Linked DNA regions of Homo sapiens: region 1 is linked to region 2. Evidence: fine-mapped QTL for protein levels in blood plasma. Region 2 holds a variant in brackets. A gene starts in the other region. All regions are shown on their forward strands.

Evidence for each region. PIP is the chance, under the fine-mapping model, that this variant and not a neighbour inherited with it causes the effect. The UK Biobank Pharma Proteomics Project read protein levels with antibody pairs (Olink). The fine-mapping took linkage between variants from a reference panel, not from the people measured, so its PIPs are less certain.
Region 1: ENTPD6 starts here. The variant in region 2 is fine-mapped to the plasma level of the ENTPD6 protein (UK Biobank, PIP above 0.99).

Annotation. Positions count from the first base shown.
Region 1 is chr20:25,182,009-25,196,966 of GRCh38, forward strand. ENTPD6 (ectonucleoside triphosphate diphosphohydrolase 6) reads left to right here and starts at 13,704. Exons shown (of 15, transcript NM_001247.5): 1 at 13,704-13,859. LOC101926889 (a long non-coding RNA gene) reads right to left here and starts at 14,884. Exons shown (of 6, transcript NR_109994.1): 1 at 14,615-14,884; 2 at 8,210-8,294; 3 at 5,845-5,939; 4 at 4,889-4,971; 5 at 4,534-4,691; 6 at 2,664-4,152. RefSeq lists enhancers at 13,160-13,399, 14,250-14,319, 14,700-14,849 and a silencer at 13,540-13,959.
Region 2 is chr17:28,379,840-28,394,673 of GRCh38, forward strand. It overlaps SARM1 (sterile alpha and TIR motif containing 1), which reads left to right. Exons shown (of 9, transcript NM_015077.4): 2 at 1,364-1,982; 3 at 4,518-4,730; 4 at 5,000-5,091; 5 at 5,201-5,436; 6 at 8,335-8,437; 7 at 8,511-8,700. It overlaps SLC46A1 (solute carrier family 46 member 1), which reads right to left. Exons shown (of 5, transcript NM_080669.6): 5 at 14,803-14,834. Among named protein-coding and RNA genes, the nearest start is that of SARM1, 16 kb to the left of the region's middle. RefSeq lists a silencer at 217-417 and an enhancer at 5,108-5,177. The variant C/T (reference allele first, on the strand shown) is at 11,734.

The DNA of each region.
Region 1 (14,958 bases), not on the chromosome of region 2:
TTGTATAAGGTGTAAGGAAGGGACCCAGTTTCAGCTTTCTACATATGGCTAGCCAGTTTTCCCAGCACCATTTATTAAATAGAGAATCTTTTCCCCATTTCTTGTTTTTGTCAGGTTTGTCAAAGATCATATGGCTGTAGATGTGTGGTGTTATTTCTGAGGCCTCTGTTCTGTTCCATTGATCTATATCTCTGTTTTGGTACCAGTACCATGCTGTTTTGGTTACTGTAGCCCTGTAGTATAGTTTGAAGTCAGGTAGTGTGATGCCTCCAGCTTTGTTCTTTTTGCTTAGTATTCTCTTGGCTATGCAGGCTCTTTTTTGGTTCCATATGAACTTTAGTTTTTTCCAATTCTGTGAAGAAAGTCATTGGTAGCTTGATGGGGATGGCATTGAATCTATAAATTACCTTGGGCAGTATAGCCATTTTCATTATATTGATTATTTCTATCCATGAGCATGGAAAGTTCTTCCATTTGTCCTCTTTTATTTCTTTGAGCAGTGGTTTGTAGTTCTCCTTGAAGAGGTCCTTCATATCCCTTATAAGTTGGATTCCTAGGTTTTTTATTCTCTTTGTAGTAACTGTCAATGGGACTTCACTCATGATTTGGCTCTCTGTTTGTCTGTTTATTGGTGTATAGGAATGCTTGTGATTTTTGCACATTGATTTTGTATCCTGAGACTTTGCTGAAGTTGCTTATGAGCTTAAGGAGATTTTGGGCTGAGACAATGGGGTTTTCTAAATATACCATCATGTCATCTGCAAACAGGGACAATTTGACTTCCTCTTTTCCTCACTGAATACCCTTTATTTCTTTCTCTTGCCTGATTGCCCTGGCCAGAACTTCCAACACTATGTTGAATAGGAGTGGTGAGAGAGGGCATCCCTGTCTTGTGCCAGTTTTCAAAGGGAATGCTTCCAGTTTTTGCCCACTCAGTATGATATTGGCTGTGGGTTTGTCAAAAATAGCTCTTATTATTTTGAGATACGCTCCATCAATACCTAGTTTACTGAGAGTTTTTGGCATGAAGCACTGTTGAATTTTGTTGAAGGCCTTTTCTGCACCTATTGAGATAATCACGTGGTTTTTGTCATTGGTTCTATTTATGTGATGGATTATGTTTATTGATTTGCATATGTTGAACCAGCCTTGCATTCCAGGTATGAAGCTGACTTTATCATGGAGGATAAGCTTTTTGATGTGCTGCTGGATTTGGTTTGCCAGTATTTTATTGATGATTTTCACATCTACATTCATCAGGGATATTGGTCTAAAATTCTCTGTTTTTTGTTGTGTCTCTGCCAGGCTTTGGTATCAGGATGATGCTGGCCTCATAAAATGAGTTACGGAGGATTCCCTCTTTTTCTATTGATTGGAATAGTTTCAAAAGGAAGGGTAGCAGCTCCTCTTTGTCCCTCTGTTAGAATTCAGCCTTGAATCCATCTGTTCCTGGACTTTTTTTGGTTGGTAGGCTATTAATTAGTGCCTCAATTTCACAGCCTGTTATTGGTCTACTCAGAGATTCAACTTCTTCCTGGTTTAGTCTTGGGATGGTGTATGTATCCAGGAATTTATCCATTTCTTCTAGATTTTCTAGTTTATTTGCATAGAGGTGTTTATAGTATTCTCTGATGATAGTTTGTATTTCTGTGGGATCAGTAGTAATATCCCCTTTATCACTTTTTATTGCGTCTATTTGATTCTTCTCTCTTTTCTTCTTTGTTAATCTTGCTAGTGATCTATCAGTTTTGTTGATCTTTTCAAAAAACCCGCTCCTGGATTCATTGATTTTTTGAAGGGTTTTTTGTGTCTCTATCTCCTTCAGTTCTGCTCTGATCTTAGTTATTTCTTGCTTTCTGCTAGCTTTTGAATTTGTTTGCTCTTGCTTCTCTAGTTCTTTTAATTGTGATGTTAAGGTGTTGATTTTAGTTCTTTCCTGCTTTCTCTTGTGGGCATTTAGTGCTATAAATTTCCCTCTACACATTGCTTTAAATGTGTCCTGGAGATTCTGGTATGTTGTGTCTTTGTTCTCATTGGTTTCAAAGAACATCTTTATTTCTGCCTTCATTTCTTTATTTACCCAGTAGTCACTCAGGAGCAGGTTGTTCAGTTTCCATGTAGTTGTGCGGTTTTGAGTAAGTTTCTTAATCCTGAGTTCTAATTTGATTGCACTGTGGTCTGATAGACAGTTTGTTCTGATTTCTTTTCTTTTACATTTGCTGAGGAGTGCTTTACTTCCAACTGTGTGGTCAATTTTGGAATAAGTGCTATGTGGTGTTGAGAAGAATGTATATTCTGTTGATTTGGGGTGGAGAGTTCTGTAGATGTCTATTAGGTCTGCTTGGTGCAGAGCTGAGTTCAAGTCCTGGATATCCTTGTTAACCTTCTGTCTTGTTAATCTGTCTAATATTGACAGTGGGTGTTAAAGTCTCCCATTATTATTGTGTGGGAGTCCAAGTCTCTTTGTAGGTCTCTAAGGACTTGCTGTATGAATCTGGGTGCTCCTGTATTGTTGCATATATATTTAGGATAGTTAGCTCTTCTTGTTGCATTGATCTCTTTACCATTACGTAATGGCCTTCCTTGTCTCTTTTGATCTTTTGTTGGTTTAAAGTCTGTTTCATCAGAGACTAGGATTACAACCCCTGCTTTTTTTTTTTGCTTTCAATTTGCTTGGTAGATCTCCCTCCATCCCTTTATTTTGAGCCTATGTGTGTCTCTGCACATGAGATGGGTCTCCTGAATACAGCACACTAATGGGTCTTGACTCTTTATCCAATTTGCCAGTCTGTGTCTTTTAATTCGCGCATTTAGCCCATTTACTTTTAAGGTTAATATTATTATATGTGAATTTGATCCTGTCATTATGATGTTAACTGGTTATTTTGCCCGTTAGTTGATATAGTTTCTTCCTAGCATCGATGGTCTTTACAATTTGGCATGATTTTGCAGTGGCTGGTACTGGTTGTTCCTTTCCATGTTTAGTGCTTCTTTCAGGAGCTCTTGTAAGGTAGGCCTGGTGGTGACAAAATCTCTCAGCATTTGCTTGTCTGTAAAGGATTTTATTTCTCCTTCACTTATGAAACTTAGTTTGGCTGGATATGTGATTCTGGGTTGAAAATTCTTTTCTTTAAGAATGTTAAATATCGGCCCCCACTCTCTTCTGGCTTGTAGAGTTTCTGCTGAGAGATCTCCTGTTAATCTGATGGGCTTCCCTTTGTGGGTAACCCGACCTTTCTCTCTGGCTGGCCTTAACATTTTTTCCTTCATTTCAACCTTGGTGAATCTGATGATTATGTGTCTTGAGGCTGCTCTTCTCAAGGAGTATCTTTGTGGTGTTCTCTGTATTTCCTGAATTTGAATGTTGACCTGCCTTGCTAGGTTGGGGAAGTTCTCCTGGATAATATCCTGAAGAGTGTTTTCCAACTTGGTTCCATTCTCCCCATCACTTTCAGGTATACCAATCAAATGTAGATTTGGTCTTTTCACGTAGTCTTGTATTTCTTGGAGGCTTTGTTCATTTCTTTTTACTCTTTTTTCTCTAAACTTCTCTTCACCCTTTATTTCATTAATTTGATCATCAATCACTGATACCCTTTGTTCCACTTGATCGAATTGGCTATTGAAACTTGTGCATGCAACACATAGTTCTCATGCCATGGTTTTCAGCTCCATCACGTCATTTAAGGTCTTCTCTACACTGCTTATTCTAGTTAGCCCTTCGTCTAATCTTTTTTCAAGGTGTTTAGCTTCCTTGTAATGGTTTCAAACATCCTCCTCCTTTAGCTCAGAGAAGTTTGTTATTACCAACCTTCTGAAGCCTTCAGCTCATCAAAATCATTCTCCATCCAGCTTTGTTCCATTGCTGGTGAGGAGCTGCGATCCTTTGAAGGAGAAGAGGTGCTCTGGTTTTTAGAATTTTCAGCTTTTCTGCTCTGGTTTCTCCCCACCTTTGTGGTTTTATCTCTCTTTGGTCTTTGATGTTAGTGACCTACAGATGGGGTTTTGGTGTGGATGTCCTTTCTGTTGATGTTGATGCTATTCCTTTCTGTTTGTTAGTTTTCCTTCTAACAGGTCCCTCAGCTGCAGGTCGGTTGGAGTTTGCTGAAGGTCCATGCCAGACCCTGTTTGCCTGGGTATCACCAGCGGAGGCTGCAAAACAGCAAATATTGCAGAACAGTAAATATTGCTGCCTGATCCTTCCTCTGGAAGCTTCATCCCAGAGGGGCACCCACCTGTATGAGATGTCAGTTGGCCCCTACTGGGAGATGTCTCCCAGTCAGGCTACACGGGGGTGAGAGACCCACTTGAGGAGTCAGTCTGTTCATTCTCAGAGCTCAAACACCATGCTGGGAGAACCACTGCTCTCTTCAGAGCTGTCAGACAGGGATGTTTAAGTCTGCAGAAGTTTCTGCTGCCTTTTGTTCTGCTATGCCCTGCCCCCAGCAGTAGAGACTACAAAGGCAGCAGGCCTTGCTGAGCTGCAGTGGGCTCTGCCCAGTTCAAGCTTCCCCAGCCGCTTTGTTTACCTACTCAAGCTGCAGCAATGGCAGACGCCCCTTCCCCTGCTAGGCTGCTGCCTCACAGGTTGATCTCAGACTGCTGCACTAGCAGTGAGCAAGACTCCATAGGCGTGGGATCCACCGAGCCATGTGCGGGATATAATCTCCTGGTGTGCCATTTGCTAAGACCTTTGGAAAAGCACAGTATTTGGGGGAGAGTGTCCCGTTTTTCCAGGTACAGTCTGTCACGGCTTCCTTTGGCTAGGAAAGGGAAATCCCCCAACCCCTTGTTGTTCCCAGGTGAGGCAATGCCCCACCCTGCTTTGGCTCGCCCTCTGTGGGCTGCACCCACTGTCCAACCAGTCCCAATGAGAAGAACCAGGTACCTCAGTTGGAAATGCAGAAATCACCCATCTTCTGCGTGGATCATGCTGGGAGCTGCAGACTGGAGCTATTCTTATCTGGCCATCTTGGAATGGAGAGAGCAAAAATATTTCTAAATAACACATGGACAGAGAAACACTGTAATAGTGGACTTTAGAAAATGTTCCAAACTGACAATTACAAAAATACAATACAGCCAAATGTGTGGGACAGAGCTACAAGGGTGCTTATAGGAAATGCAAAGCTCTAACTGCATTTCTTATAAGATAGGCTGAAAGTTGACTTCGAGTAAGACAGCAGCACATAGCTCCCACTGGGCAGCCTGGCTTGGGGCTCCCTAGTAGGGATGGTTTTTGAGGGGGACCTTGTCATAGTTCTGGGGTCATGTGGAGGACACTCTGGTGTTACTGTTTCCAGTGCACCAAGGGTGAGTGTCTTCTGGTTACCTAGCTACCTTGGCCCAAGCATTCTGGAGCCTGGGAGACTGGGAGCCAGGAGATAGGTGGGAGGAGGGGCAGGCCCCAGGTAATAGGAGAGCAGGGCTAAGGAACAAAGATAGCCAGCCTGAGGCAGCTCCCTCAGCCTCTGTGCTGAGAAATCTCGTACTCCACTTCTCCGCCCTGAGAAAGCTTGCTGTCTGGAATCCTGTCGCCTGCAGATGCTCAGCCATGCAGGCCACTCCACACAGAGAAGCAGCCTGGAGCTCTCACCTTGGCTCACAGCCTCAGATAAGGGGCTTCCAGATACAACATGGTGCATTTGTCTTGAGCTCGGGCCCCCAAGTCAGCCTCTCAGCCCAGTGTGATGTGTCACCCTGTGACCCACAGCCCTGCTTTCAGCCTGTCAGAAACGGCTTCATTTTAAACTTCACCTGAACTCCTCCCTTCTCCGCAATCCTGTCTATCCCATGCTGAAGGCAGGAGGCCTCTGATGTGGCTTCCTCGCTGCAGTTACTAACCCTCACTTTGTCGTGGACAGCTGTGCCCTGGCGCCATTCACTGAAGGGGCTTTATCAGTCTTCAGAAACACCCTTCCTGAGCGTGAGGTGCTGGGCTGTAAAATATACATACATTCTTTAAAAAGGCAAATGCTTGATGATACAGTGCTATTTGGACTTCATTTTTTTGAACCTTTGCAATGCCCTTTCTCAACAAAACAAAACAAAATTTGACTTGGATTCTTAGATAATGGAATTGGCTGCAGGAAGCATTTGTTTTATCACCCCTTGAATGTTAACAATAACCCTGAGAGAGCTATCTGTACTGAGCATGAAGGAAATAATATATACAGTGGTCCATTTCCAAGACAAAGTGCCTTGAATTGGTTTAGGTCAGCAAACTACAGAAGAAACAGGATACACTAGGCCCCTGCTTGGATAGCCAATGCCTGCTTGTCGCCTCCCCACCCTCCACCCTACCCCACTGCCTTAGTTGCCCTCACCCAAACCAAAGGAGTTTAGTCTAAGATGAAAGTTTACTAGCTTGCAAAATAGCTCACTTTGTCTGTTCTTATCAGCCTGCCCAGATACTTAGGTCATAAGTCAAGTACTTGAAGAGCCCTTGAGCTAACTAGGATTGCAATGTATTATGGCTGCAACAAAATGCAGCAGAACAATCCTAAAGAAAATGCCTAAAACCCCTACCCAACAACCAATAGGCAATGTCCAGGAAGACTGTGACCCCATAGTACTCAGCCTATGAGGAACCAAGGGAGGGACCTGCACACTAGGGGATAAATTGCTTTTGAAACTGTACTGGGTGTGCCTGCCCATCAGACACCCGATCTTGCAAGATTGTCATTAAAGTCTCGCTTCCACTGTTCTCTGGGTCTCTGAGCCCAAACTTTGGGTTTGGACCAGTGAGTTTGTTTCTCACAGCATGACCTACTCTCCACCATGATGTGCAGCATTGCAGTGAGCAGAGAACAGCCTCCCTTCCCACTCACCCACCTGCCTCTTGGTTAGACATAAGTTCTCTTGTAACTTCTTTTGCTTCATTTATTTTAAATAAGAATAATAAAGTTTTAGTCTTTAATTTAAAAAAAGAAGATAGGCTAAAAATTAATATGTGTTCAGCTTAAACTAGAAAATTTTAAAAAACAACACACTCTAAGTACAAAGAAAGAAATAATAAAGATGAAATAAATTTAAAAATATTAAACAAAGATACAGAGGAGTTCCACAAAGCCAAAAGTTAGCTCTTGGGGAAGAGAAGTAATAAAACTTAGGCATTTCTGGAGATGCTGACCAAGAAAAAAAGGAAAATTTACAAATTAATTATTATGAGTGAAATGGAGGCTATCGCTGCAAATGCTAAGAAGATGTGAATAATGTTATACCAGTAACACTGAAAACTTAGGTGAAATGTGATGATTCCTTTAGAAAGATGCCAAAACTGCCTGCGAAAGAAGTAGAAAGCTTGATTAGAAATAGAATCAGCAGTTTAAAATATTTCACACAGAAAACAGAAATATTCCATCAAATATTCAAGAAATAGAAACTTCAAAACTTAAACCCATTTAGAAGATTTAAAGGCAGAAAATCTCCAACTCATTCTGTAAGGCTAATTTAATCTTGATAGTTTCTAAACAAGTACTATATTAGAAAGAACATTAGAAGCCAATCTTTTTGTGAATGTAGGAGCAAAGAACCTAAACACAATGTTAGCAAGTCAAATCCAGCAATGTATTTTAAAAGTATGCTTATTTGGGAATGCGGGAATGATTCAACGTTAGAACTTATCATATTAACAAATTAGTGGGCCGGCGCGGTGGCTCACGCCTGTAATCCCAGCACTTTGGAAGGTTGAGGCAGGTGGATTGCCTGAGGTCAGGAGTTCGAGACCAGTCTGGCCAACATGGTGAAACCCCGTCTCTACTAAAAATACAAAAGAATTAGCTGGGCATGCCAGCGTGTGCCTGTAATCCCAGCTACTTGGGAGGCTGAGGCAGGGGAATTGCTTGAACCAGGGAGGTGGAGGTTGCAGTGAGCCAAGATCATGCCACTGCACTCCAGCCTGGGTGACAGAGCGAAACTCCATCTCAAACAAAAAAGAAAATTAGTGGAGAAAAATAATAATATCATGTATAGATGAAGGAAATGCACAAAATAAAACTGAACATTCATTAATGATTTTTTAAAACTCTTAAACTAGAAATAGAAGAACATTTTCTTAATCTGGTAGACGACAACCTATACAATGTAAAATGCTAAAGGCCCTCATGGAGAGAAGACAGTCCATTAACAGCTACTCTAAATGGGACAATCTGTTCACACCAGTCTCCCCCTACCAGGACAGTCGACCAATTGCCAAGAACAGTATTACCTGTTTTACAGCTGCACTTCATGTGGTCCCAACAAGACTATCACTACAGTGCAAGATGACATCTGTTGGATCATCCATCGGGAAGCTAAAAGAGACCACACAATGGCCCATGTGGCAGGCAGGAATCATAAATGCCAAGTTCTCTTGGGGAAGAGTAGGGTTTCCCTCACATTTTTTCTTGTTTGTAGTAGATTTTGGAAAATGGAAGGCTAGCCATGAGCAGGGAAGATCTGACTTTTTTGGTGAGTTACAGGAAAAATATTTGGTAGAGAAAGCAGTGATTTGTGGTTATAGATTTCAGGGAACCAAAGGAAGAAATCAGAGCAGTGGCTAAGATGTTTTGTTTGATATTATTAACAAATGACCTATGAGTGATGGTATCTTAGGTTGAATTCTTCCAAAACAAATTCTAAAGAATGATTTGAGTGCAAGTAGTTTATTTAGGAGGTGACACCAGGAAAAACCAGTAGAGGAGTGGGGCAGTGAGACAGGGAAGGGAGGAAAGCCAGTGTGGGTTACCGCTCTGGACCACTGTGTTCAATGCCAAGTAGACATGCCGGAGAGTTGTCCTGAGTGGAAAGGGAGCCAGGGTCTTTGCACCTGACATGGGCTGAAACTGCTCTCAGAAGCATTACCTCCTGGCACTTCCTCTGCCAAAAGAAGGCCCTGCTGTGGAGAGTCACGGGAGCACACAGTGGGACAGACACAGGCAGGAGGCCTGGCAGCCTCTGCTACAGAGACACTGCACAGTCCATGTTCTGTTCCTTCACTGAGCAGACAGCTTTGCAGCTGTCCTCCTGGACTTTTGTGAGTAGGTGGACACATGTGAGCAAGCCACACACAATAGAGGGCTTCCTCCACTATTACTCAAGTTAGGTAAATTGAGGCAGCTTGGTAACTCACCAACCTCTTCTAAAACATTCTCACCCCCAAAAAGCAGGGCCAGGCACTCCCCCCTGCTGTCAGAACACTTGCATACATGTTCTGCTGGAGCCCATGTCTCAGTTATCTGCTCCTGCATTCCTAGGGCGGGTGCCAATTGGCTTCCTTCACCTTCTGCCTGCAGGGCTGAGCTGCTTCTGGCTGACAAGTGAAAACATTAGAAGCACCCTCATCAATCCATCCATTTCTTCAAGAAATATTTTATATGTTGACTTCATTTGAGTTTACCCAAAGGCAGTTTGAGTCAAGAGCTTAGATGCAGGTAGTTGACCTGGGAGGTGATTCCCAGAAGCAGGAGAGAGAGAGAGAGAGAGAACCGAGAAAGATCGGAGGACCAACCCAAGGGGGCATTACTGAGCTGATCACCACTAAGGGTCACTGAGGCTCACTTCTACTGAGGACTCAGAATTGGTCCTCTGGGGACAGAAGGCTGAGGTATATATCCCCAGTTAATTAAGGGTTGCTGTGAAGGAGGTTCACTGTGCATTGGTTACCAACATGTCTGTGTCCAGTGAGAGAGAACGCATTCATACTCAATAAGTTATATGAAGCAAATTTATTACTTACAGACAGGCAGCAAGGGACAAGAGGAGCATTCATTGCAAGCTGGTTGCCTGAGGCTCAGGAAATCTGCTCAGGGCAAATGGAGTCTCAACTGGGCATGCCCCACTTGCACCACAGACGAGGAATGCCAGAGAGCAGCCTGCCCTGGGTTTAACATCCCAGGGTAATGTGATTTGCTGGGCAGTGTTGAAGGACATCCTATTTTCAGCAGGAGACTGGAACTGACCTTGGGCTGTTCAGCCAGTTCTCCCTTATCTCAAGATGCTGCAATCCTAGCACATTCTGCAGTTATTCCTGAGAACTACATGGTAAAAAGGGGACTGGGTCTGTCCAAGGCCACCCAAACTGCCCTGCAGTTGCCCCGGGGATGTTAAATTTCCCTGAATTCCAGGCTGCGCCTGCTCCCAAGGCTTCCGGAGAAAGTCGTAAGATAAGCCCTAAAGAGGACAGCAACGAGATGCTTGAGGTGGCAGCATTCAGGGGAACTCTCCACAACAATCAGAGAGCTGACGGCAGAGGCAGGCAAGGGACATTAGCACCAATAATGTATGCTACAGGCACCTACCATGTTCTAGACAGAGTGCCAGACATGCAGCAGTGAGCAGGACAGACCAACTTATTTGTTCTCATGGAGCTTCATTTCAGTAGTGGAACAAAGAATTTACCAATAAACAAGTCAGCAAACAAGTAATGACGGGTGTTGTGTCTTTGCAAAAATTATGACAATAAGAAAAATATGACATAGGAAAATTACAACAGTGAAAGAAAGCTGGCCTAACCGACTCCATCTTCTAACCTCCAATCTGCCTTTGCACATTCCTGGGCATAGGCCAAACAAATCTGTGGAGAAACTTAGTTTATAATTTCACTTTAAACCAAATATAACAGCCCCCCCCTGAAACAAACCTCCTTCTTGCTTGGGGACCAGACCACCTTTGTGAAACTAACAAATTAGCCACAAGATTAAAATTTATGGGCCGGGCGCGATGGCTCACACCTGTAATCCCAGCACTTTGGGAGGCCAGGGTGGGCAGATCACCTGAGGTCAGTAGTTCAAGACCAGCCTGGCCAACATGGTGAAACCCTGTCTCTACTAAAAATATAAAAATTAGCCGGGCGTGGTGGCAGGTGCCTGTAATCCCAGCTACTCAGGAGGCTGAGGCAGGATAATTGCTTGAACCCGGGAGGCAGAGGTTGCAGCGAGCCGAGATCACACCATTGCACTCCAGCCTGGGGGACAAGAGCAAGACTTCATCTCAAAAAAAAAAAAAAAAAAAAATTATGGCTTAGGAGTCATGCAGCCCGAAGCCACAAGATTCCTAACCTCCATAATTGCTCCAATAGATAATATTACTATTATATAACATAAGATTGGTGTTCAAGGTATTTTTCAGACCCCACATTGTGATGGACTAGCCACCCAGACTGGTAAACTGGCTATCTCGTCTTGTGACCCCAACCCAGGAACTAACCCAGAGCAAGACGAAAGCTTCATCTCTTCAGGATTTCATCCCTAACCCAACCAATCAGCACTCACCATTCCCTAGCCCCCTGACTGCTAAACTATCTTTTAAAAACCCTAGCCTCCAGACTGGCACAATCCCAGCACTTTGGGAGGCCAAGGAGGGCAAATCACTTGAGAGCAGGAGTTCGAGACCAGCCTGGCCAACACGGTGAAACCCCGTCTCTACTAAAAATACAAATAATTAGCTGGGCATGGTGGTGTGCGCTTGTAATCCCAGCTACTTGTAAGGCTGAGGCATGAGAATCGCTTGAACAGGAGGTGGAGGTTGCAGTAAGCCTAGACTGCACCACTGCACTCCAGCCTGGACAACAAAGCAAGACACTGTCTCAAAAACAAACCCCCCCCAAAAAATTCCTTAGACTCCGAATTTGAGGAGAGGCTGATTTGAGGAGTAATAAGCCTCTGCTCTCCTGGTTAGCCAGCTCTATGTGTATCGAACTCTTTATTGCAATTCCCATCTTGAAAAATTGGCTCTATCTGGGCGACAGGCAAGAAGAAGCTGTTGGGTGGTTACAGTGTGATGAGTGCTATGAAGGAAATAACATAAAAGGTGACAGAGAATAACTAGAGGAGGCCATTCTAGATAAAATGGTCTGAGGAGGTGACATTTGAGCTGAGTATTAAACATTGAGAAACAATCTACGAAGGGAAGATGTGGTGCAAGACCTTTCCAAGCAGTGTATAATACACACAAAAGCCCATGCCAGCAAAAAGATTTTACTTTCACAAATTCTAGAAACTCTAAGAGTAAAAAGTGGTGAAAAGAAAGGAAGTGATAACACATGTTGCCAAGTGCAGCAGGCAGAAACAGGGCCATCACCACTTCACGACAGGATCTCAAAATACTAGGAAGTGTAAATTAAAACCATGAGATATAGTTTTGTCATTATTGGATTGGGAAAGATCCAAAAGTTTGGAAAGACCCCACTGGTGAAGATGTGTGGAAACCCACAGTCTTACACATTATTTGCCAGAGTGTAAATTAGTACAGTGTCTAAGGGGGGCAATTTAGCCACGTTTGGCTAATATATTATTTTAAAGGACATATCCCACCATAGCCAATTCCACCTCTAAGAATATTTCTGACAGATATACCCACATGCATGCACAAAGACAATCCACGGGATCCAGTCACATTATTCCTAACCCAAAGCAACTGGGAAACACTTCAAGGTCCATCAGTGAAGGCCCGCATAGGCTAACCTCTGTAATAACCAAATCTCAGTGGCAGTGTCCAACCAGGTGCTTGTGGGCGACCTTCCAACAGGCACCGCATTGCCCGGCTGCCAGGCCGGGCCTGTGTACTGTCCCCGCATCCCATACAGCTAGCACTTATTCACCCTCAAAAGCGTCCCATCCTGAAAATAAACTCTTGCCCACTTGGTGCTTCAGGAACCTGGGCTTCTTCCACTAATAGCTCTCCCAGATGCCCCAGTGCGCAGGTGGGGCCGTCCTCTAGGACCAGGCCTGGCTGGGGCGCACCCACACCTCCTTGGCCAGACGCCATGGGCCGGGAAGGGGCTCTGGCCCTTGCGGGAATGAGGGCGCCTAGCATAGGTGTGCAAGTGGGCAGCCCCCACCGTGGGGTCCTTAAGTAAGCTGGAGCCTGTGAGCCAGGACAGTCAGGAGTTGCAACCTTGGTGATTTCTAGGAAGACAGAAAATGGGGTCAAGGGCCGGGTGTGGTGGCTTATGCCTATAGACCCAGCACTTTGGGAGGCCGAGGCAGGCGGATCACCTTAGGTCAGGAGTTCGAGACCAGCCTGACCAACAGGGCGAAACCTCGTCACTACTAAAGGTACAAAAATTAGCCAGGCGTGGTGGCGCACACCTGTAATCCCAGCTACTCAGGAAGCTGAGGCAACAGAATCGCTTGAACCCGGGAGGCAGAGGTTGCAGTGAGCTGAGACCACATCACTGCACTCCAGCCTGGGTGAGAACCTGTTAAAAAAAAAAATAAGAAAATGGGGTCAAGAAACGGTGGGAGGAGGGCAGATTTCATGAACCTGCCTGCTATGATGTGGCTGCATTTCCATCATGCATTGTCCTAAAAAAAGAAAAAGAAAAAAATAAAATGTAGACGTGGAGGGATGGGGGAAATTGCACAGGCCGGTCCAGGCTGTGAGGCTGCCCCCTACCAGGGACGACGAGGGCCAGCTCCGCCGCGCCGTAAGGAAACTGGCCAAGGGAACCCCTTGAATCTGGCGAGGGCCCGCCATGAGACGCTCGGGGAACCAGACTGCCGAGCCCCCCTCTCTGGGCCGACGCCAGCCCGGCTGTGGACTGGAGAAAACCGCAAGGCCACCTGCAGAAAGAAAAGAAGGCCATCGCGCCTACGCAGCTGAGCACCCATACTCCGCCCGCGCCTGCGCAACTGGGTCCCCCGACCCCCACCTCCTCTCCCGCCTGCGCATGCGCGGCTGGGTGCGCCCCCCCGCCCAGCCTGTGACGCCACGTGCATGGGGCGGAGCCCAGGCCCTAGGGAATCGTGGGGTCGTATCCCGCGGGTGGAGGCCGGGGTGGCGCCGGCCGGGGCGGGGGAGCCCAAAAGACCGGCTGCCGCCTGCTCCCCGGAAAAGGGCACTCGTCTCCGTGGGTGTGGCGGAGCGCGCGGTGCATGGTAAGCGGCGGGCCGGGGCGCTGGCGGGGGCGGCCGGGGATCACCGACTGTAGGCGGGCCTCCCCCACGCGGGCGCGCTGCGCTCCGGAGGACGGCCTCGGGGTCACTCGCACCCCGGGTCCCACCTCCTGCTGCCTTCCTGTCCAGGCTCCATTAGGGCTCCCTGGATGTCTGGGCTCCGCTGACCGGTGGGGGGCAAGTCCAGTGTTTTGGGCCACAGGGCGGGCCAAATAGCAGGGGCCTGTAGCCCCAGGGGGCCCCAGCCCTGCTGCGTTCATTCATTCAGCCCGCTTTTGCGGACCCGCCCCCAGTCTGCGTCAGGGACAGACCCCTCCGCCCTGGATGAGCCCGGCGGGGAAGCTTCGCGTAGCAGTTTCTGGGAAACAGGTAGGATCAGGCCGCTCGGACAGGACTGAGGGTGTAAGGACGATTCACCCTGGCATTGGGGTGGTGTCCCGAGGAGCTCATAGGTGGTCAGGGCGGTTCTGCCCGAGCTGACCTGTGAGCCGCGAATGCCCTGGACCGAGGGAGGGAGAGCCCCCTAGGTGGACAGACTAGACTCCTTCAGTGGAAAACATTCAACAGCCAGGAGAGCGTGGAAGAGGAAGGAGAGATGGGAGGGCCCAGGGGAGCGTGGAAGGGAGGGTGTTTTTATTATAAGTGCACCTGTAAGTGCAAAGTGCAAAGGAAGCAGCCGCCGGGAAGTGCCTGGGCAGCTCTGGGTGTCCCTCCAGGCACCTGTATTCCAGCCTTACCTGCGCGAAGCCACACATCCCACGTCACACAGGATACGGGGAAGTCAGCCATAGCCTGCAGGCGGGGAATCTGAAACCTCGCGCAGGAGTTCCTTGGGAGAGGTGGATTACAAGGACTCTTCCTCCCACCCGCTGTGCAAGAGCCATGGGCGGCCGGTAGTCATTTTTGAAGGACCTGGCAAGCACTGTACAAATCTCAAAATTGCTTTTTGTCCCCCTCCCCTTGCCTTGGAGAGAGTGGCTGGCTAGTGTGTGTGTCGTCTGCCTCCTGAAGGTTCGGGTAAAGGACCAGGGAGGTGGGCAGCCCTTTGTGTCAGGAGATCTGGAAGCGCCTCCCCTCCCAC
Region 2 (14,834 bases):
TCAGGTAGCGATAGCTATTGTTTTAATTTTCATTTCTCTGATTACTAATGAGTTAGAGCATCTCTTTATCTGGTTTTTCAAATTTTGGATTTCCTCTTGTCAATTGCCTGTTTATGTCCTTTGCCCATTTTCTTTTGAATTTGTTGCCTTTTTCTTCTTGATTTGAATATTTGCTGATATATTCTACATATAAACCCCTCATTGATTTTTTTCTTTTCTTTTTTTTTTTTTTCTGTCTCTCTCTCTCTTTTTTTTTTTTTTCTTTTGACACAGGGTCTCACTTTGTTGTCCAGGATGGTCTCAAGTGAGCCTCCCACCTTGGCCTCCATGTGCCAGGCATTGTGCCAAGCATTCTACAGGCATGAGCCACCTTGCCCAGCCTGGTTTTATATTTTCCCTTTTTGGTTTTAGACATCGCAATACCTCTGGCATTCTTTCTATTCCTCAAACACGTCAGCTCCTCTGCCCTCAGGCCTTCATCCTTGCTCCTCTCTCTGCCTGTTATGCTCCTCCCAGATATTTGCACACAGGGATTTCTTCACATTAAGCTTAGATGTCACCTCTTCCCACATACCCCTCCTCCAGGCACACGCCATTACATCATCCTGTTTTGCTAGCGCCAAGGCCCTATCACTACGATCTGGTTCACTCATTGTTTTCTTGTCTATGTCTTCCTCCATCGCCCTGAGGATAAGCTCTGGCCAGTCTCTGTTAAACCTCAGCCCCTAGTGCAGTGGCTGGCACAGGGGACGTCCTCAGGAAGCATCTGTTGAATGAATGAATAGATATGCCCCGGTCATGGGCCATGGAGTGAGGAAAAGGCAAGGCTAAGAGTGGTGTGCTTCAAGTGACACTTCAAATTAGGACAAGTTAATATTTGTTGAGTTTTTACCATGTGCCAGGCATTGTGCCAAGCACTCTATAAGGCTTATCTCATTAGTCCTGATAATAATCCTATGAGGCAGGTATTTCTATTTTCTATTTATGAGATAAGGAAAGCAAGGTAGAGAGATAAAGGAAGCTGCCCAAAGGTCTCCTTTATCCCAGTTAGAAAACGGGCTGAGAAGAAACCAGGACCCAGGGGATCTGCTCCTGAGCTGAGGCTCTTAGCCACCACACATACTGCCTCTCAAGGGGAGGAGGGAGGGGGAGAACGGCTATGGCCAGAATAGAGCACCCTTAGAATCCGAGAAGTGGGGTCCTCCCAGGGGAGGAGATGAGGGTGGGGAGCAGGGAGGGGAATGCTCTCCCCTATATGAGGCCGGTGAGGCCCAGAGAGGGTTAGTGACCAGGCCCCAAACGGGCAAGCCAAGCTCCCCAAGCTGCGGCAATTCCACTGTCCCCTTCCACTTTCACTGGGCAGAGACCGCGTGGCGCGCATTGGGCTGGGCGTGATCCTGAACCTGGCGAAGGAACGCGAACCCGTAGAGCTGGCGCGGAGCGTGGCAGGCATCTTGGAGCACATGTTCAAGCATTCGGAGGAGACATGCCAGAGGCTGGTGGCGGCCGGCGGCCTGGACGCGGTGCTGTATTGGTGCCGCCGCACGGACCCCGCGCTGCTGCGCCACTGCGCGCTGGCGCTGGGCAACTGCGCGCTGCACGGGGGCCAGGCGGTGCAGCGACGCATGGTAGAGAAGCGCGCAGCCGAGTGGCTCTTCCCGCTCGCCTTCTCCAAGGAGGACGAGCTGCTTCGGCTGCACGCCTGCCTCGCAGTAGCGGTGTTGGCGACTAACAAGGAGGTGGAGCGCGAGGTGGAGCGCTCGGGCACGCTGGCGCTCGTGGAGCCGCTTGTGGCCTCGCTGGACCCTGGCCGCTTCGCCCGCTGTCTGGTGGACGCCAGCGACACAAGCCAGGGCCGCGGGCCCGACGACCTGCAGCGCCTCGTGCCGTTGCTCGACTCTAACCGCTTGGAGGCGCAGTGCATCGGGGCTTTCTACCTCTGCGCCGAGGCTGCCATCAAGAGCCTGCAAGGCAAGACCAAGGTGGGTGCAGATGTGGGGTTGGGTGGATCAGGGGTTAGAGAGCCTTTGGGAAGGTTTCCCAGAGGAAGTCACATTCAACCGGGTCTTGAAATACACATCAGAATTAGATGAAGCAAGACAAAGGAGGAGCGGGCCAGTCATTTTGGCGTTGAAGGCAAACCCGAAGTTTGGACTTGGTTTTGGGGGCAAGAGGAAGACACTAAGAAGCTTTTAAGCAAGGGGACACTTGTGTTTTACAAAGATCATCCTAGCTGCTGTGTGGAAAGGGGCTTGGCAAGGGTGAGGACGGAGGCAAGGCAACCCAATAAAAAACTATGACTTGCAGGGGTGGGCGTTGGGGGAAGGGGGAGACAGCGATGCCAGTGGCAGAGAGCAGATTCAAGAGATGTTTAAGAGATGGAGTTAGCACTTGGTGGCTGGGAGAAGGAGAAAGAGGAGCTGAGGATGACTCCTGGCCCTGAACATAGGCAATGAATAAAGTGAACTGGGTGAGAGACAAGTGGAAGTGGGGAAGGGGAAGAAAGTGACTTCTGCAGGACATATGGAGTTTGAGATGCCTGAGAGATGCCCAGCTGGGGAGCTTCAGTGGGTAGTGTAGCCTTTTGAGTCTGGAGTCAAGATGGCTGTTAGAGACAGAGGCTTGCGGCTTGGGACAGGACATCAGTGTGTCAGCCAGATAACCCCCATCGGAGTCCCAAGGGGTCCTCATGTCCAGGGCCTAATCCACCAGTGACCTTTGCCCACTGCTTTAACTTGCTGTGTGACCTTGAGCACCTGGCTTCCCCTCTCTAGGCCTCTATCTGGGCCTCATTTTTATCTTCTGGAAAATTCAGTAAATTGGACCACAGCAGCAGTTCTTACCCTAGATGTGGGATAGTTTTAGCACCACAAGTTTGTGGATTGTACTTTTTGGAAACAGAGATCTACTATATTGCCTAGGCTGGCATCAAACTCTCAGGCTCCAAGCGATCCTCTCTGCCTCAGCCTCCCAAGTAGCTGGGACTACAAGCACGCACCACAATCCCCCAGCTGGGCTTTGTTTTTAAAATGTTACAGGTTGAAGATTCTCCCTACAATATCACTCTCTCTTCTTTGCATTTTTTTGTGGAGGCTTGGAGGTTGGTGATAGCTGGTGCACAGAGATGTGGTGCATACCCCATGACCCACCTTGTCTGTACCCCAGCTGTCATCTGGGGGTGCTCAAAGGAGTGTGTCTTACAGATGATTGTCACCCATCATGTATGTCCCTGCAGATCAAAAAGAGACTGCTGGCTGGGTGAGGTGGTTCATGCCTGTAATCCCAGCACTTTGGGAGGCCGAGGCAGGTGGATCACTTGAGGTCAGGAGTTCAAGACCAGCCTGGACAACATGGTGAAACTCTGTCCCTACTAAAAATACAAAAATTAGCTGGGCATGGTGGCAGGTGCCTGTAATCCCAGCTACTCGGGAGGCTGAGGCAGAAGAATCACAGGAACCTGGGAGGCAGAGGTTACAGTGAGCTGGAATCGCACCACTGCACTCCAGCCTGGGCTACAAAGTGAGGCTCCATCTCAAAAAAGAAAAAGAAAAAGGAGACTGCTATGTTAGGGGGGTCTCTGGGGCCTCTTTCAACATCCAGTGTTCTAGGAACTTCTGATTCTTCTCTCTGCACTCCAGAGCTGGGTCAGGGAGGACCTGCTCTACAAGGCAGGTCATTTTGCTTAGGGAAAAGGGTCTTAAAGGAAGTAGGGAGTGAGGACCCCAAGGATTGGATCTGGGCCGCAACCATGATCACCAGCCTGTCACCCCTTTCCCATCGAGGCCAAGTGAGTGTAGTTCAACAAAGACATCTCGAGTCCCACTCTGTGTCCTTCATCGTGCCAGATGCAGGTTTCCAGTAGTGACTAAGACATGTCCTCAGCTTATACTCCAGTGGAAGTTGCATCGTCAACCAGTGACAGTGGCATTCAGAGTGTGGTATAAGACCTCATTGGAGGTGTGGGCCAGGATGTGGGGGAATCAAAGCAGGCTGCATGAAGGAGGTGCTAATCAATTTGGATTCTGGTGGATGAGTAGGATTTCCGTGGAGTGGGAGGATTCCCATGAGCAGACTGGAAGAACTAAGGGTTTGGAAACATAGTGGGCCAAGACCCAGAGGTGTGAAAGCCTTGGAATGTGTGCATGTGCGTGTGTGTGTGAAGTGTAAGTTAGTGGAAGGTGAGGTGAACTGGGAGTGATGGGCAGCTGCACTGTGCCCTGCCTGGCGCTATGCTGAGAGCTCAACTTTATTCCAGGGCCGGTGGATGCTGTAGAAGGGATATAAAGGAGGGATAGGCCCCTCCGCCCCCAACCCATCCGAGTCAGGACCTGGTCAAGAATTGAGAGAACTTCAGGAGGGGGAATCCGCAGGACCCCATGACTTAGTGGCTGAAGGTGGGGCCAGGGCAGATGGAGAGACTTTGGGTTGTGAGAAGAGACAAGGAGAGGGACTGGGCACGTGTGGGAGCACCTGGAGAGCTGGTGGGACCTACAGCCCTCTCCCCACTCCCTCCCTAGGTGTTCAGCGACATCGGCGCCATCCAGAGCCTGAAACGCCTGGTTTCCTACTCTACCAATGGCACTAAGTCGGCGCTGGCCAAGCGCGCGCTGCGCCTGCTGGGCGAGGAGGTGCCACGGCCCATCCTGCCCTCCGTGCCCAGCTGGAAGGAGGCCGAGGTTCAGACGTGGCTGCAGCAGATCGGTTTCTCCAAGTACTGCGAGAGCTTCCGGGTAGAGTCGCGTGGGATACGCCTCCCCCGAGTCAGAGCGGGCGCCCTGTGCACAGGGACTGCGTTCCCTCCCCGCCTCGCAATCCCGCGGCGCCAGGGTCGCTTTTGGGGGCGGGGAGCCTGTACGCAGCCACCGTTAGGGTCACTCGGCTCTGATCTAGGTCCCATCCGCCTCCTCCACGCCATCTCCAGTTCCTTCCCTTGCATCTTGTGCTCGAGGTCCAAGGGCGGAGTAGCGAAGCCCTTCCTGACACCCGACTCCTCCCCCAGGAGCAGCAGGTGGATGGCGACCTGCTTCTGCGGCTCACGGAGGAGGAACTCCAGACCGACCTGGGCATGAAATCGGGCATCACCCGCAAGAGGTACGGAGCCTCCTGCCCGCCGGACCCCAGCTAGGTCTAAATAAGCTCCCCCTCCGCCCACAGCCCGTCCGAGTCTGGACCTCAGCGTCTTCTCCTCCGTGGGGTGCAGGTTCTTTAGGGAGCTCACGGAGCTCAAGACCTTCGCCAACTATTCTACGTGCGACCGCAGCAACCTGGCGGACTGGCTGGGCAGCCTGGACCCGCGCTTCCGCCAGTACACCTACGGCCTGGTCAGCTGCGGCCTGGACCGCTCCCTGCTGCACCGCGTGTCTGAGCAGCAGCTGCTGGAAGACTGCGGCATCCACCTGGGCGTGCACCGCGCCCGCATCCTCACGGCGGCCAGAGGTCAGCCCGCTCACCCGGGACCCCGCCCCAGCCCCAGCCCCAGCCACGGCCCTGGAATGGTGAGGGGAGACACGGGGTGGAGCCTTCCAGCCTCGCCGTGGATTGATTGAGCACAAACGTGGGTCACACTGGGCTCTGAGGATGTAAAGATGAATACGTTGCACTTTACCTCAAGAAGTTCCCAGTCTGAGGTGGGTAGGCGGTGGGAGGAAGGAGGCTATTAAACAGGCAAGCGGCCCCGGCAGGAAGCTACCCAGGTCTCCAGTGGGAGCACAGAGGAAGCCCAGCCCACCCCATCCACCCAGGTCTAGATTTCAGAGAGGACAGGATGCCTGACCATGTCTTGAGAGGTGCACTGGCGGGGAGGGGTGGCAACAGGAAGGGCAGCCCAGGCAGAGGCAGCGGCCTATGGAGAGTCCATGCAGTGGGGTGTAGGCGGGAAGGGTGTGCGTATGTGTGTTATCCTATTGGCCAACAGCTTACAAAATTTGGGTCTAGAGGTGGTTTAGAGTGAATTCTAGGCCTCTAGCCACCCTCCTTATTTACTAATTTATTTTTACTTACTAATTTACTACTTAGCTAATCTTTATTGTCAATTACAAGGTACTCTGTTTGGTTTTTAAGATATTATCCCATCAGTCTCTATATTGATTCTATGCAATGAGTGTTCAGTTTTTAAAATCAACCTTAAAGAACTCTTGAAAGAATAAAAAGAGGAGTAAGTGTCCAGTTTGAGGGCCGGGCACCGTGGCTCATGCCTGTAATTCTAGGACTTTGGGAGGCCAAGGCAGGCGGATCGCTCAAGTCCAGGAGTTTGAGACCAACCTGGGCAACATGGTGAAAGCCCATCTCCACTAAAAGCACAAAAAAATACAAAAAATTAGCTAGGTGTGGTGGCGCATACCTGTAGTCCCAGCTACTTGGGAGGCTGAGGTGGGAGGATCACCTGAGCCCAGGAAGTTAAGGCCGCAGTGAACTGTGATCAGGTCACTACACTCCATCCAGCCTAGGCAGCAGGAGTGAGACCCTATCTCAAAAAAGAAAAAAAGTATCAGTTTGAGGAGTTTTGAAAGACATCTGTGTGACCCCCCACCCCCACCATCATCATTAAAGATATAGAATATTTCCATCATGGGTGTTCCTTTTAAAGATAATGAAACTAACATTTAAAGAATTCAAATACATTTCCCACAGTCATAAAAGTCATTAGATGGCAAAACTGGGACTTGAGCCCTTGTCTTTCTGCTTCATAAACAAACAAATGTTGTCTATGAGGGTTATGTCTAAATATTATAAGAAGATGAATTCTTTTCATTTTATCCTTTCATTCAGCAATTACAGACTAAGCACCCACAAGACACAAGGGACTGAGCTTTGGCTGCATTCTTATGCTTCAACCAAAGCAGGTTGGCTTTTATTATTTTTACATTGCAGCTCCCATTAAAACTTCAAGATTTCATTTTTATTATAATTAATTAATTTGAGACAAGGTCTCATTCTGTCACCTAGGCTGGAGTGCAGTGGCGCAATCACAACCCACTGAAGCCTCAACCTCCCGGGCTCAAGTGATTCTCCCACCTCACCTCCCAAGTAGCTGGGACCACAGGTGCGCAACACCACACCCAGCTAATTTTTTTATTTTTTGTGGAGACAGGGTTTCACTATGTTGCCCAGGCTGTTCTCAAACTCCTGGCCTCAAGCAATCTTCCCAACTTAGCCTCCCAAAGTGTTGAGATTACGGGCGTGGGCCACCGCACCCAGCGCAAGATTTCATTTTTAAACAACAGGAAAATCCTAGGGCAAAAATAGCTTACAAAAAATAGTTTGTATAGTGAGTAGGGAGCCATGCATAGTTTTTAAGTGGGAGGAATGACATGCTCAGATTTGGATTTTAGAAAGATGTTCTGGTAGCTGTGGCAAATGGACTACACTGGGCAATTCTTTTCTTTTCTTTTCTTTTCTTTTTTTTTTTTTTTAGTCAGAGTCTCACTCTGTCGCCCAGGCTAGAGTGCGGTGGTGCATTCTTGGCTCACTGCAACCTCTGCCTCCTGGGTTCAAGTGATTCTCGTGCCTCAGCCTCCCAAGTAGCTAGATTACAGACATGTGCCACCATGCCTGGATAATTTTTTGTAAAGACAGGGTTTCACCATATTGGCCAGGCTGGTCTCGAACTCCTGGCCTCAAGTGATCCACCCACCTTGGCCCCCCACAGTGCTGGGATTACAGGTGTGGGCCACTGCCCTGGCCTAGACTGGGCAATTCTAGCTGGGTTTGGGGAGGCCATTGAGGAGGCTGGCATTGGAAACCTGAGCCAGGGAAGGGCCCGGAGGCTGGAGTCCAGTATGTTTAGTAGGTAGAATCCTCAGAATGCGGTGCCTGGCGCTTAGTACTGAGCGTGGCTCCAGAGGAGCAGAGTGCTGTCTGTTTTACTCACTGCTGAATCTCAAGCACTGAAGACAGTCCTGGCACACAGCAAGTGCTTAGGATGTATTTGTTGAATAAATTAAATGGGAGGCAGGAGTTGAGGCTGATACCCAGGTGTCTGGCTTTGGTGGGAAATAGGGAAGAAGGAATGAGGGGGAGATTTGGGGTGTGTTGAATTTGGAGTGATTGTGGGCAGCTGGCTGTTCAGGTCTGGAGTTCCAGAGAGAGGTCAGGGCTGGAAGTGCATGCATATCAATGTCCCTAGAACACAGTGCCTGCCTCCTAAGAGGAACCCAACAATAACATGACCTTCCTCCTGGAGGCCCCATTTCTCCTTTTTGGGGCAGGCCACCCTCCCCAGGCTGGGCTGAGAGGGCTTGGTGGACTGGGGACTAAGTCCACAAGGGATGATATACCTGACAGTGAGTGATGCGGAGGGGCCACCTTCACCATGCTGCCTATTGCCCACTTCAGAAATGCTACACTCCCCGCTGCCCTGTACTGGTGGCAAACCCAGTGGGGACACTCCAGATGTCTTCATCAGCTACCGCCGGAACTCAGGTTCCCAGCTGGCCAGGTGAGGAGGGGCGGGCGGGCAGCGACGGGGCGTGGGGACAAGGCTGTGGCACTGACACAGGACTTACTTGCAGTCTCCTGAAGGTGCACCTGCAGCTGCATGGCTTCAGTGTCTTCATTGATGTGGAGAAGCTGGAAGCAGGCAAGTTCGAGGACAAACTCATCCAGAGTGTCATGGGTGCCCGCAACTTTGTGTTGGTGCTATCACCTGGAGCACTGGACAAGTGCATGCAAGACCATGACTGCAAGGATTGGGTGCATAAGGTAGGTGCCTGCCTATGCTTCTGCGGTCCCAGCATTGGCCTGTGGTCCAGAAGATAGGGTCGTCTTCTATTCCTTCTTGTCTGCACATCCCGGCACACTTAGCCCTGAAGCACCTCCTTGGCCCAGCTGGAAGTCAGGAACCACAGCTCTGACTGTAATAGGACTTTAGCAAACCACAAGGGACAAGAGACTAGGCTTTGGCTCTCTGAGCCTCAGTTTTCTTTTTCTTTTTTTTTTTTTTTTGTTTTTGAGGTAGAGTCTCGCTCTGTCACTCAGGCTGGAGTGCAATGGCGTGATCTTGGCTCACTGCAAGCTCCACCTCCCGGGTTCACACCATTCTCCTCCCTCAGCCTCCCGAGTAGCTGGGACTACAGGTGCCCGCCACCACGGCTGGCTAATTTTTTTGTATTTTTAGTAGAGACAGGGTTTCACCGTGTTAGCCAGGATGTGAGCCTCAGTTTTCTTTTCTGCAAAATGGGGTAACTTACCTGTTCCACTCACCTTATAGAACTGTTGTGAGGATCAGAGAGACATAAAAATGCTTTGAAAAATAAATTCCATGAGAGACAGGAGAGCATAGCGACAGGCAGAATGGAATAGTTGTTGAGAGCTCAAAACTGAGAGTTTGAATCCTGGCTCTGGCCTTGGGCAAGTTACTTAACCCCGATAAGCTTCATATTTATTTCTGGAAAGAGGGTATAATAATAGTATCTAACTCCCTAGAACATTGTTATAAGGACTAAAAAAGCCAAAATTTGTGAAGTGCTTAGCAGAATGGCTGGCACATAGTAACTGCTCAATAATGGTAGCAATTATTATTATTAATATAATTATTATAACTACTATATCTGTTTAATTCATCATTGTATTTTCAGTGCCTGACGCATTGTAGGAACTTATTGAATACTAACAGAATGCATTGATGGATAGCTCCATATTGCATCTTCAGGTTATTAATCATTAATCGGTCAGTAGGAATTGGAGTTGGGGCTGAGGGATGCAGTAGTCATCTAAGAGACAGGATGAGACAAGCAGTCAGCTCAGAGACAAGAATATGCCCAGAGGGCTGGGCACAGTGGTTCACACCCGTAATCCCAGCACTTTGGGAGGCTGAGGCAGGAGGATCACTTGAGGTCAGGAGTTCGAGACCAGCCTGGGCAACATGGTGAAACCTTGTCTCTACTAAAAAAATACAAAAATTAGCCAGGCATGGTGGCGCACACCTGTAATCCCAGCTACTCAGGAGACTGAGGCAGGGGAATCGCTTGGGCCCAGAAGACGGAGATCACACCACTGCACTCCAGCTTGGGCAACAGAGTGGGACCCTGTCTCAAAATGACTAGATCGCATACAAGTTGGTGTAAATGCTGAGCCAGGTAAGCAAACATCTTGCTTGCCACAGGGGTTTGGAGAAGGGAGAGAGCATCAAGGTGTCAACGAAAAGAGTCAGACTCTATGAGCGACCATGGCCTGTGACACAGCCCTCAGGAGACCCTGAGAACACGTGCCCAAGGTGATCAGGGCACAGTTTGGTTTTATACATTTTTGGGAGACACGAGACATCAATCAATACATTTAAGATGTACATTGGTTTGGTTCAGAAAGGCAGGACAGCTCAAAGCAGGGGCTTCCAGGCTATAGGTAAATTTTAAATTTTTCCAGTTGATAATTAATTGAGTTTATCTGAAGACCTGGGATCAATAGAAAGGGAATGTTTAGGTTAAGATAAAGGGTTGTGGAGACCAAGTTTTATTGTGCAGAGGAAGTTCTCAGGGCAGACTTCAGAGGGAGTAGGTTATAAAATGTTTCTTATCAGACTTATAAGGGTGCCTGGCTCTTTGTTGATTATCTCCTGAGTCCGGAAAGAAAAAGAAAAAAATGGGGGGAAGGGGATTCTCTATAGAATGTGGCCTTTTCCCACAAGAGACAAACTTGTGGAGCAATTTCAAGATATGGCAGGGAAATATATTTGGGGTTAAAATATTTTTATTTCCTCCCTTATTATGTGATGTTATGCTAGAGTCAGGTTAGAAAGCAGACCACGCTATATAGGGTTAAAATTAAAACCTCCTCCGATAAGACTTTATGGTTTGTAGGGCATGACTCCCTAGGCTCCTTAGGTAGGAATTTGGGCAAGATAAAAAAAAAAAAAATCAGAGTTTAGTCCTCAAAGGACTGGAATAATCAGGGAAGACTTCATGGAGGAAGCAGGTCTTGAGAAGAATCTTAAGAATCTGGGTAAGTGGAATAGAAGGCATCCCAGGCCAGGGTAACAGCATGAGCAAAGGAATAAAGGTAGGGAGGAGAACAGTGCTGAAAGCCCACATACATCTTGGTACTGCTTTCTCCATATCACAGATGAAGAAACTGAGGCTCAGAAAAGTAGAATAATGTTCCCCTGGCTGCACTACTAGTGTAGAAATCAGAAAAGCTAGGCTTCAAATTCCATCTATCTGACTCCAAAGCTCATCACTTTCCCAAGATCCACACTGCATTCTATGGCACAGCTCTGAGGGGGTGTGAGGGGAGGTGATGGGGTAGGGCTGGATTCGGTTGACACCAGAGATGATTGTATCTCTTCACAACTCCACATCCAGTGATGTCATGTTGGTAGCTTGTCATCAGCCATGGTGGGAGTATTTACACCAAGGAAATTGGCAACCACTACAAATCAAAGTTTTGTTAGTTTGGTTGATTGGCTGGTTGGGTTTTCTTCCCCCATGAATAGCTAGTTACTATAAAGTTAGCAGCACACCACTGGCTGGATAAGAACCATGGAAACCAGGTAAAGCAGTGTCTAAAGGCAGGAGAAGACCTGTGCTTAAAGCACTGGAAATCAAGGAGCCCATGAAGGAGAAGATGCCAGGGCGGTGGGTCTTAGGATGAAGGCTCTGACACTGGAATGCAGTCCACATGGAGTGTGGAGTCAAGCCCCAGAGGCCATGTAGGAGGGGCTGAGTACTAGGCCTGGTTTGGGGAGGGGCACTGGGGCAGTTGAGCATCCAGGAAGAACATGGCTGATAACCCAGAGCA[C/T]GTGGCAGGCAGCCTTTTGAGAGAAAGAAAAGAGTGTCTGTGAGCTCCATGAGACTTCAGACCTTGCCTCATTCATCTGTGTCCCTGGTGCCTAAAACCATGCATGGTACAAAGGAGGCTCTATGCAATTGCACCAAAAAAAAAAAAAAAAAAAAAGAGAGAGAGAGAGAGGCTGAGGCTGTAGAGGAGTTTATAGAACAATTGAATCAATGATTAAGCAGACAAGTGATACTGATGAAGCTGAGATGCCATGCCTGGGAGAGCCATACATATCTAGTAGATTTACCAGGTTAGAGGACTTGACTCCGTTTTTTTTTTTTTTTTTCCAGTAGAGATAGGGTTTCGCTATGTCACCCAGGCTGGTCCCGAACTCCTGAGCTCAAGCCTGGAGTTCAGTGCCTGCCTCGGCTCCCCAAAGTTCTGGGATTAGAGGCATGAGCCACCGTGCCCAGCCAGAGGACTTGACTCTAATTGTTTTCGTTCTCAACCAGCTAGGTGATCCTGAACAAACCATTATCCCTTTCTTTTATTTATTTAATTATTTTTTTTTTTTTGAGGCACAGTCTTGCTCTATCACCAGGTTGGAGTGCAGTGGTGAGATCTTGGTCGGCTCACTGCAACCTCCGCCTCCCGGGTTCAAGTGATTCCCCTGCCTCAGCCTCCTGAGTAGCTGGGACTACAGGCACACGCCACCATATCCAGCTAATTTATATATATATATTTTTAGTAGAGACGGGGTTTCACCATCTTGGCCAAGATGGTCTCGATCTCCTGACCTCGTGATCCGCCCGCCTTGGCCTCCCAAAGTGCTGGGATTACAGACATGAGCCACCACACACGGCCGCCATTATCCCTTTCTTGGCCAGCCTCTGAATCTGTGCGATGAATAATTTGTACTGTCTTTGGTTTTGTATAATTCTGGATGAAACAAATTTCTAAAAATTTCCAAATAAATTGCTGCAGGCTCAGGATTCATTCCAATGCTCAGCAGAAAGGCAGCAGGGCTTGGCTGAAACAGCCTGGACTTGGACTCTCGAGGCTTGAGTCAGAGGACCGGCCCCTCGTGGGCTGGGCGTGTGTGTGGCTTAGGAGGAAATCCCTTCCTCTCTGGGCTTTTTTCTCTCCATCTGTAAAATGGAGCGGCTCCCCAGGAAGCCAGTCAAGGACGAAGTTACGCATGTTCTTTCCCCAGGAAGGCTCCACTTCCCAAGAATGCTTGGCACCCCTTGTCGTCCCAGCAGATGGCAAAGAGGTGAGAGGAGCCTTTGTCTTGGACCGGCCCCAGAGGCTCCGTCATCCCTCTTTGGTTGTTTCTGGTGCTTAATTGCCTCTGGTTTTAAAACTCCTTTCCCTGAAGCCACATTAGTGGGTAATCAATAGGGAAAAACCACAAGTGAACTGCACTCAAAAAAGTAAAATCCCTTTGGTTCCCTCTTGAGAGGAAGAAAAACATTCAATAAGCACTTAATGGAACCCGATTACTAGCAAATAATTCCTCAGAACAACGCTTTGAGGTAGGTTTTATTATCCCCACTTTACAGAAGAGGAAATAATAACACCTATTACGTATTAAGCATACACTGCATGCAAAGCACTGTTCTAATTACTTGCCATGGAATGTTGCGCTTATTCCATGGAACAATCCTGAAGACAGGGACTATCATTAATCCTGCTTTATATATTAGAAAACAGAGGAACGAGTGTGGTAGTGCAGGCCTGTGATCCCAACACTTTGGGATGCTAAGGTGGGAGGATCACTTGAGGCCAGGAGTTTGAGACCAGCCTGGGCAACATGGTGAAACCCCATCTCTACTAAAAAATACAAAAAATTAGCCGGACATGGTGGCACACGCCTGTGGTCCCAGCTACTTGGGAGGCTGAGGTGGGAGGATGGCTTGAGCCCAGGAGGTTGAGGCTGCAGTGAGCCTTGATGGTGCCACTGCCCTCCAGCCTGGGCAAAAAGTGAGATCCTGTTCCCCTGCCCCCCGCCAAAAAAAAAAAAGAAAGAAAGAAAAGAGAAAACAGAGACTTTGAGAACCTATTATTTTTGCCTCAGGTCGTAGAGCCTGTGTCAGAGACTCAGTGCAAACCCCGATTTGATGATTCCAGAGTGCAGCCCTAACTGCTGTGCTATGTTTTCTCATTCATTCATTCATCCATCTATTAAATATTTAGCAAGGGCTAACTATAAGGGCTTTGTGAAAGATGCTGAGATATAAGGTCAGTGAAAAATAGATATGATCCCTCCTCATGTCTGGCAGAGAAGACAAATACTGAGTAATTTACCCATTAATTAATTAAAATTTGCAACTATAATATGTTCTGCAGAGCCTATAATAGGGGAACTGACTTGGTCAGGGCAGTGGGAGACAACTGCCCTGTGTAAGAGTTGATTGAGCTCAGATCAGAAAAATGAATGGGCATTATCAAGGGGGAAGGACAAGGAAGCTTATTTTGTGTGTCTGGGAGGACAGGGCAGGGGTAGAGTTTGAGAAGTGGACTGTGGCCAACCACATAGGGTCTCACAGGCCACATGAAGGAGTTTGGACTTTATTCTAAGACCATGCAAAGTCTTGAAGAATTTTAAGTAGGGGGTGACAGGACCTAATTTGTCAGATGTGCATTTTGCAAATATTAGCTACATGAAAGGGCAATGTGGAGAGTGAATTAGAGAAGACAAGCGTGGATGAGGAAAGACCTGGTGGGGGCTTAAAGATAATGGGGATTGGAAGAGGGTGGTAGTGGGGTGGAGGTAGGGAAAAATAGTGGATTTGAGAAATAAGTAAGGAGTACAATTGGCAGGGCGCATGATGGATCAACCTGTACGCAGGAGTGTGATGTTTTTCTTCTGACACCAAATTGTTTGGGGTTTTTCCCACACTAACCACTAATTCTCCAGCTTGCCAACACCAACTGGGTATCCCGCAATTCAATTCAATTCTGAAATGTCAGTCACGAGGCCCAGGCCCCCAGGCTGCCACATTTCTGTTTGATTTGGCTACAAATTCGGGGGTGCCCATGACACCCCGAGATTCAATTTGCCAGAATGACTCACAGAACTCAGGAAAGCACTTTACTTACTATTAGTTGTTTATTATGTC